3 separate regions of the Homo sapiens genome follow, and all the other regions are reported to be linked to region 3. Evidence: microRNA targets listed by miRTarBase, many of them from high-throughput screens and not tested one by one. Region 3 holds a microRNA gene; each other region holds the end of a gene's coding sequence.

What was found. The annotated mature microRNA hsa-miR-3671 reads AUCAAAUAAGGACUAGUCUGCA and lies in region 3 at 1,291-1,312, opposite strand. An mRNA with a match to its seed (bases 2 to 7 or 8) in the 3' UTR can be bound and repressed. Matches are read on the target gene's strand: a 7mer-m8 pairs with bases 2 to 8, a 7mer-A1 pairs with bases 2 to 7 and ends in A, and an 8mer does both.
Region 1: the mRNA of AKAP10 is a reported target of hsa-miR-3671. Seed matches in the 3' UTR shown: 7mer-m8 at 1,768-1,774.
Region 2: miRTarBase lists FGF19 as a target of hsa-miR-3671. Seed matches in the 3' UTR shown: 7mer-A1 at 1,629-1,635.

What each region holds. Positions count from the first base shown.
Region 1 is chr17:19,903,710-19,906,709 of GRCh38, reverse strand. AKAP10 (A-kinase anchoring protein 10) reads left to right here. Exons shown (of 15, transcript NM_007202.4): 15 at 478-2,408. The coding sequence ends at 483. Among named protein-coding and RNA genes, the nearest start is that of ULK2, 37 kb to the right of the region's middle.
Region 2 is chr11:69,696,821-69,699,820 of GRCh38, forward strand. It overlaps FGF19 (fibroblast growth factor 19), which reads right to left. Exons shown (of 3, transcript NM_005117.3): 3 at 1,418-2,756. The coding sequence ends at 2,442. Among named protein-coding and RNA genes, the nearest start is that of FGF19, 5.7 kb to the right of the region's middle. RefSeq lists a silencer at 2,461-2,755.
Region 3 is chr1:65,056,472-65,059,622 of GRCh38, forward strand. It overlaps MIR3671 (microRNA 3671), which reads right to left and starts at 1,371; the gene lies at 1,284-1,371. It overlaps MIR101-1 (microRNA 101-1), which reads right to left and starts at 2,037; the gene lies at 1,963-2,037. It also overlaps a transcript of JAK1 not described here.

The sequences.
Region 1 (3,000 bases), not on the chromosome of region 3:
CTGAATTGCTTCATGTGCACATGTCCCATGCCACAATACCGGGGACCTTGTCTTCCGTGATATTTGTCCGCAGTGCTGTGACTACAGGAGGGAGTCAGTGAATGTCTGCATGTGTGTCTTTACCATCCCTCTTGAATATGCTCTAGGGTTAATTCCTAGAAGTAGAATTACTCTATTGAAAATTGGCAATATTTTTCATTCTAATATCTATTGCCAACATGGGAAAGCAAGTCTGGATGCCAGTCCTTGTTATATGCCCCTTGGGTAAGTTACGTAACCTCTTTAAGCTTCTGTTCACTCATATTTTAACAAGGAAAATTACAATATTTTACCTCACAAAATTGTAGTCAGCTTCTGGCTGTCTTAAACTCTGGTATATAGTAAACACTAAGTGTTGGTGTCCATCCTTAATTTGTAATAATAGGTCACTTGTTAGAGAAATGCACCTTACCATTTTCTTTTCTTTTCTTTTTTCAGTTATGACTCAAAACTTGAGATAAAGGAAATCTGCTTGTGAAAAATAAGAGAACTTTTTTCCCTTGGTTGGATTCTTCAACACAGCCAATGAAAACAGCACTATATTTCTGATCTGTCACTGTTGTTTCCAGGAGAGAATGGGAGACAATCCTAGACTTCCACCATAATGCAGTTACCTGTAGGCATAATTGATGCACATGATGTTCACACAGTGAGAGTCTTAAAGATACAAAATGGTATTGTTTACATTACTAGAAAATTATTAGTTTTCCAATGGCAATAACCCATTTATGAGAGTGTTTTAGCCTACTGGAATAGACAGGGACCACATCCTCTGGGAAGCAGATAAGCATAGAACTGATACTTGATGCACACTCGTAGTGGTAACTCATCCCTAATCAGCATTGTAAAGCAGGTGCCAGAGGTGGTTTGCTTTGTCCTTCCAAAGCAGGTGAGTCAGCCCCACCGAGAGCCAGGCAGCTTTGAGTGGCAGCGTGGTGCTAGCAGCTTCAGCGGAACAGGGTGAGAGTTAATTATGCAGTCTTCTTGACAGCGGCATTAATTTGGAAGGAAACTGACAAGTCATGGGTCAAGTTTCAGTGACTTCCTCCTTCCTCTGATGGCAGTATATAGTTTTCACATTTTAATTCCTCCTCCTGAGATGCACTATACTTAAAACCATTCTCTCCCCTGCTAACAGAAGGGTGTGAATCTGGTTTACTTTGAGCATTAGGATTTGCCCCTTTGGAATTCTGCACTCCAGTTACTTAACTTTCCCTTCAGAATACATGTGGAAAGAAAGAAAGAAATAGCGATGACTCCACTTTTGCCCCTGTGGCACCTTGAACAAAGCAGTTCTTCCCAAATTATACTTTTTTTTTTTTTAAATAAGGTGAGCAGGATGACTGGGGAGAGAGAAACATTTGACTTTGACTGCCTCCCCCATTCTTTGCTGTGAGCTGGAAAGTGTGCAGTTGGTCGTCTTTCTTCTCCTTTCTTTAGGATAGTAAGAGACTCACTCACTGCACTTCTGCTCAGTTGGCTTCTGCATCGGGATCACACAGCCATCAGCAGGACTGCCCAGTTGGTGAGCACACTCCATTGACCACGTGGCGCCAGCGCTTCCTCAATGCACATGATTGAGAGGAAAGAAAGTTCTCTTAGATGTTACTGCTTTTGCTCAGACTTTGCAAAAAAAAAAATATATATATATATGTATAAATATATAATTATTAATCACTTTTGTCCTTGAGAAAGTCTTGAATGAACAGAGAATTTATTCCATTGCAATATTTGATTGTATAGAGGCACACTGTTTCATCGACAGAAGAAGCAAAAAGGCTTTGTGTAAGTTTTTGGTACTATGTACCACCTCTGTTATTCTTTTAAAGCTGAAGTATTCATGTACTTAAACCATATTATATTTAATTGTGTTTGATTTTAAAATATATATATATGAATTCTATTTAAAATTGTGTCAACTTTCTGCTTTCAGGGCATTTATGGCTCTTCTGTTGAAATATATTGATCTTTCCAAATATTTTCATTTGCTTTCTAAAAACCCAGAACATGAGCCACTACTGGACTTTGCCTTGTGTTTGAAGTGTATGGCATAAACCCAAGGTTTTTATTAGTCATCTATGCTGTGATTAATTCATTTTGTTCTTTTAACAAAATATTTCCATCCACTTCACATTGCTTCAATCTTTAACAGAAAAGCAATATAAAGGTTATAGAATAAAATGTGGTTTTGGGCAACTCTTGCTGCCTCTGCATGTTTTGGAATAACAATTTCTACAAGACTCTAGGCTGTTTAAACTAGTGCTTTCAGTTAAGATAAATTCTAATCATTTCTTTGTATATACATTTTGTGCTTCTGAGCTAGAGATGCCAAGTAGTTGTAAACTGCTTATAAAGAGAATAGCAGCAAATTTGAGACTCGGCTACTTTTTTCTGCCCCACCTGCTTTGAGACACAGAAGCGGAGTGTGGCCCGAAATTATTAGCCAGATTTAATATTTGATCTAAAGTAGGTCCTTGTACTCATTTTAAAGTTGGAATTTGATTCCTCCAACATTGAGCACCCACCATGTTCCAGGCTCTGTGCATTGTGCCCACAAAATAAGATTCCCTGGTGGAGTTTTTATGGGTTCAAATAATCAGTTGAACACCCTTCATCTTTATCATGTTGTTGACATTGACACAAATTGTTTAAAAAGAAAAGATATTAGAGAGAAAGTGGTACCTTTGTAACTTGATGTGTCTTCATCATTCGGTAAGATTTGATGAAAGTAAAAAGCAAATGTCAGCCAAATCCAGTGAACAGCAATAAAACAGGGAGTAACTTTTTATAACTTTTTCTACTTGGATTTCAACATTCAGTAGAGCTTTTCGAAATGTAAGTAGTTTACAGTACTGGAGGTTTGACTAGTTCAGTAGGAATTTGGAGGGGAAGGTCATTCTGAATTGTAACAAAGTACAAACTTCTTTGCTGTTTTATTTAAGTACTGAGAGCTAAGCACCT
Region 2 (3,000 bases), not on the chromosome of region 3:
GTCCGCAGAAGGATGCAGGCTCAGAGGGGTGATGTGACTTACTCAAGGTCACACAGCAATCAAAGGGCCCTGCCCACAGCCCCTGAGCTGCCTCCAGGCTGTGTGGCTCCAGGAGAGTGCCTTTCCTGTCTGGCGCCTGCCACGGGTAGAGAAGGCTGTGTCCACAAGCATCATCCAGCCCTGCCTGTCAGCTCTCTAATCAGCATGGTTACATGACAAGGACACCAAAGAGTGAGAGGGGCATCTTGATTGGCAGATGGAGACAGGGAACGCCCCAAGGGTTAACTCTAGATGTCCTGGGCATGTCATCAGTGAGAATGACAAGTGGAGGTCCCTTTTACTGGAGAGCAGGGAGGCTTCACCTGAAATAGCCTTCGTAGACTTGAACAACGACATTACCCCCCTCGCTGCCAACGTAAGCACCTGGGAACTACTGCCCTGAGTGACCCAACCCTCCTCCCCGACTCCCTCCACCATCCCTAATCCCTGGCAAATGCTCATTTGGAATCATGTTTCATGCACACGTTGGTGTCCGGTTGCACCTGCTCCTCCTTGCACTCAGGATGTGGCCCACATCTGGTCACCCTGACCGCTAATTCTTGCCTTCCCAGCCTGCCGTGCAGCTGGGGCTGGCCTGGTCCTGTGACGCAAACCTGGTTCTTAGGATGTAGCCGGAATTTGCTGAAAGGTTCTAAGGAAGTTTTGGCTTTCTTGATGAGAGAGGCCCAGCCCGAAATGATTCCCTCTCCCTGAGTACAGGGCGCTCAGCTGAAGCCACAGCAGCCCTGGCGAGACGAGGCCCCAGCAGGACAGGGACACCAAGGGAATCACACAGGGCACAGCCCAGGCATCGCTGGGTCACTGGGTCCCTCTGGATTTGTGGCTGGACAAAAAGAAATCCTATTTGCTCCGGTCAGTGGTCCTCCGTTAAGGGTGATCTTGCCTCCTAAGAACATGCAACAACTTCTGGAGGTATTTTGGTTGTCACAACTTGAGGGTTTCTACAGGCATCTAATGGTGGGGGGTGGGGGGGGCACTGTTAAATGCAGGAACGTCTTTCCCCAGGGAAGAGTGCTGAGGGCGAGAGGCCCTCACTTAGGCCGCTGTTCCTTGGTGTTTGTTTCCTGCAGCCAAAAACACTCCTGGCAGAGAGGCCGCCCTAACCACTGAGACTGCTAGAGAGAAGGTGGACTGAGGAAGCCAAGCCCCTAGGCATGAGGAAAGGGCAGGACAGCAGGGCCCAAACCAGCCTCCACCACTAGAGCTGGCTGGCCCAAACCCGCTAACTTCCCACCCGAGCTTTTGGTGTCCAGGGCAGACACACCGAGGGTTTCCTCCCGTGGACGGTGCTGCCCCCCACCAGCCCCTTCCCCACCCTCCCTAACATTCTAGGCGGATAATAGAATGCACCTTTTGATACAAACAAACTCCATTTTAATATACAAAACAAACCTCACTTACATACATAAATATAATTTGGGGGCATAAATAATGTAAGAAAATAAGAGATGTACATATCAAAATAAATTACTCATAAATATCATGTTGGAAAACCAAGTGCTGGGGAAAGGGTTCTAGGTCTTCCCCCGCTGCTTCCACACAGCAAGTTATTGACAAGACTTGGGGTCTTCAAATCTTTTCTTTTCCTGATTTTTGAACAAGAAGTGCAGGTTGACATAAGGTGGGGGGCCTGGGAGGCCCCAATCCATGGGGAGGCATGTGAGGTGGGCAGAGGGCTGGTGGGCTGGGAGATGGAAGCAGGTGACACCGGGACAGCAAGTTATTCTCAGGACAGCATCCATGACAGAACTGGCCTCAGGGGGAATTCTCAAGTTGTCCCAGGGCTGGAGTGGGGCTCCAGGCTTCCCCTACTCCTGAAGCCTGGTGGGCCATGCCTGCTCCAGTCAGTTCTGGCCTGGAGGGATTTGGGAAGGGCAAATGGTCCCTGGAAGTAGAGATATAGATCAATTCCCACATGGGGTTGAGTGAAATTTACCTGCTGTTTTACAGAGTGGATCACCTGTTCCTGAAATTAAAACTACTGCCTGTCTTCTGGCTGCTCCTGGGGAAGTGATGAGAAAAAATTAGAGAATTTCAGCTTGACATAAGAATTTTTCCAAAGGAAGTGAGTTCCCCATCGATGGAGGTATTCAAGCAGAACTGAGACAGTGCAGCAGCTTGTCCAGCAACCTCGAGGGAGCAGAATGGGGGCCCAGGCAGCAGCTGGGCAAGCTACAGGCTTACAATGTTATGATCAGACAAGTCTATTGGCTAGAAACTGGCACTGCCAATGGAAAACTCTGAATATGTACAACTTCTAGATGTTTCTTCCTAAAGCTAAACAGAACGTGGACTCAGGACTGTTCTTGTAGAAGCACGTCCCCCACGCTGCAGGTACCACAGCCCCTGGCAGCAGTGAAGAGGCCCGGGCATGGTCTCAGTTACTTCTCAAAGCTGGGACTCCTCACGGCCTCCAGTCCGGTGACAAGCCCAAATGGGTCCATGCTGTCGGTCTCCAGGGGCGAAGAGAACATGTCAGATTCCAAGTGGCCCCTGAGGTCCTCAGGCTCCTCTGGGACCATGGGCAGCATGGGCAGGAAATGAGAGAGTGGAAGAAAGCCTCTGTTCTTGTACAGCTGCCGCTGTTTGGCACTGCTCAGGGAGACCGGGAGGCGGTGCTTCTCGGATCGGTACACATTGTAGCCATCTGGGCGGATCTCCTCCTCGAAAGCACAGTCTTCCTCCGAGTACTGAAGCTGCAGAGAAAACAGGCAGCTCTGAGCAATCCACAGTGGACAGGGAACACGGGTCCACATGGACGTTTGTGCTACAGACTGTCCCTGGTGGCCACCAGCAGTGACCTTCCACATAAGCATCACTTGCATGTTTTATACATACTTCCTGATGTACACACTGTACGTGTAAGTATATATAAAATATACCTTTATATATGTAAGTATATATAATATATAATGTACTTTAAGGCCAGGCACAGTAGGT
Region 3 (3,151 bases):
GAAGGATAAGAAAGAACCTCTCTGTACGAGGCCTACTCCCTTTCAGTTCCCTTTCTTCCCCATTGTGTCCCAGTGGAGGACCTGATAATACACCTGACCCATATCTAAGACATGCAGTTGGCAGGGCTGATAGTAGGTAAGGTTCACAGTATGTTAAAAAGTCACACGAGGCCGGGTGCAGTGGCTCAATGCCTGTAATCTCAGCACTTTGGGAGGCTGAGGGTAGGAGAATCACTTGAGGACAGGAGTTTGAAACCAGTTTGGGCAACATGGTGAAACACCATCTCTACCAAAAATACAAAATTACATGGGCATGGTGGTGCACACCTGTAATCCCAGCTACTCGGCAGGCTGAGGCATAAGGATCACTTGACCCCGGGAGGCAGAGGTTGCAGTGAACCAAGACTGAGCTACTGCACTCCAGCCTGACCGCAGACTGAGACTCTTTCTTTAAAAAAAAAAAAAAAAAAAAAAGTCACAAATGGTTTTTCTCTCCCTGGCCCCTCTTCTCTCTGTGGTAGGTAGGTTCAAATTACAGCCTAACCTCAGCCATCTCTGTTCTCTTTGCTCAAGCATATGGGTCACTGCTTTGGGTTCCTACACCAGTCAGACATCCACAGGCTCCCAGATACAGACATGAGCCTAGGATGAGGTAATATACCCGATTAGGCTCTGAGCCTAAAACACGTTCCATGAAATTACCTGAGCCTTCCTTGCACAGTACTGTGATCTAAGATCTAACACATAATCAAGTCATGCACTTTGTTTCTTATTTGCTATTGTTACATGTGTACAGTGTCCTTAGGAGTCTACAGGGAAGAGGGATAATTGGCAGAGATTGGCATTGGCAGAATCCTGGGTTCTCCAATAACCACCTTTCACCCCCAGCAGTACTCTCTAGAGTAAGATGGAGGTTGAAGATGTGTGCTGTTAAATTTCCTAATCCTGGCTGGGTATAGTGGCTCATGCCTGTAATCCCAGCACTTTGGGAGGCTGAGGTGGGAGAATCAATTAAGCTCAGGAGGTCAAGACCAGCCTTGGCAACATAGTGAACTCCTGTCTCTACTAAAAATTTGCAGGTGGGTGGCCTGAGCCTGTAGTCTCAGACTCGGGAGGTTGAGGTGGGAGGATTGCTTGAGCCTGGGAGATCAAGGTTGAAGTAAGCTATGATCATGCCACTGCACTCCCGTGTGGGCAACAAAAAAAAAATTTCCTAGTCTTTCATGCACGTGATGCTGGCTTGGTGTTTACAGCTTCGTATTCCTGAAATCGATATGTGCCAGATATCACTGCAGACTAGTCCTTATTTGATAGAAATAAAATAATTTACATTTTATTTTCATGTAAATGTGACAGCAGCAGCAATAACATAGGCATTCAGTAAATATTCTTTTGAATTAGGCCAGATCCTAAATATCCTGAAAGAAACATGACATGTCACTATCTACTCCTTCAAGACAAAGATATACTTTTTTTCTTTCTTCACTTCAGTAAGCTGGTCTACAATGATGGACTTTTATTTATGCAACAATTTCAATACTGTTCAACATATTGGGCTTTTTTTTTCTCCCTGTAAGTAGAATCTGATTTTGAAATCTAGTAGTGTACTGACAAGTGCCAAGCTGTTCTAATTAGGTTACCTTTCACATTTATAAAAATGGTACGAAGTTCTCTGAATACCATTCCAGAAATACTAATTCATACTTACCTATTTTCAGTCTCCTAAAGGTTCCAAAGATCTTAATATATGTTCACTCAGCACAACATGGCTGCACCAACAACTACCCCATGTTACAAAACAAGGCAAAGAGAAGCAGAATAACTCTCCCTATGCCCCGGGAGAAGTATGACAGAGGTGCAGGGTAAGAGGGTTTCTGGGTCCCAGCCACCTGTTTCACATTCCTCTTTCACCTTCTTTCTTCCTGGGTACGGTGAGGCTCCTCTGATGGAAGGTAAGATGGCTGCCATCCTTCAGTTATCACAGTACTGTACCTTTAGAATAGACAGCATCAGCACTGTGATAACTGAGCCAGGGCAGCCTGTCAGTCACTGTGTCGGTCAACGGCATCCTTTCTGGTGGCTGCATTACTCTCTCTGAAGGCTCCCCATGAAGTGAAGGACTAAAAGATCACCTTCTGGTTGGAGACGTGAGGAGGCAGAAGAAAAAGAAGGATCAGAGCCCAGCAAGTGGTGAGGCTGAAATATTAAAAGGCCCAGTTGAATTAAATTAGAATGAAAGATGAACACATGACTTATCCATATTAATGAGGATGAACAACTGCATGATTAGGTTTTCACTCTAATACATCAAATATGCAGTAAGCTTCCAGCATATTTCACAGCTTATCTCTTCCATGCATGGATTCACTGACTGTGCCTCCCTGACCTCAATCATTGATTTTTCATATATATACCGAGGAACTACTACGTTCTAAAGCCCTCTTCTAGATGTTCAGGAAATAAAGATAACTAAGACATGATTCCTGTCTTCAAAGTGCTCATAACCAAACATGACAATAATACTTCATATCTGCCAAACATTCAAAACTGCTCTATATGTTTTCTCATTTGGTTTTCACAAGACGCTATGGGGCTGGCAATGAATTATTCATTAATTCATCAAAAAAGGATTCTGGAAATAGATTAGATATTATTACCCCATTTTATAGGCAGAAAAAAAAAAAAAAAACTTAGGTGATTTGCCAGAGATCATATATTGCTAAGTTATGGCGAACCCATGTCCAGAACCATGTCAAATGAGTGAACACAGTGCTTTGTTTTCTCTACCCTACCCTAGCTGTCCAACTCCATCAACTGGATATTCAGTTTACACAAACAAAAGGATTTCTAAAAACATTTACTTTTTGTTTTAGTTTTCTCAGTAACTGAGATCATGAAGCAGAAGCTAGTGGGGCTTTATAATTAAGAAGAAAAATGCACATTAGCAAAAATGACTTTCATTCCTCTTGCTCTGAGTGCTAAGAATGTACTCAAATTAGTAACATTGATATTTTTCACTATAGTTTATGTCAATTCTATACCTATGGTGATACTGACAACCTTCAGAATACCTTTTTAAAAAGTAATAATAACATATACACATCACTTGCTTTTAAATTATCTGTACCTTTGAGACGTACTCTGAAGTCAT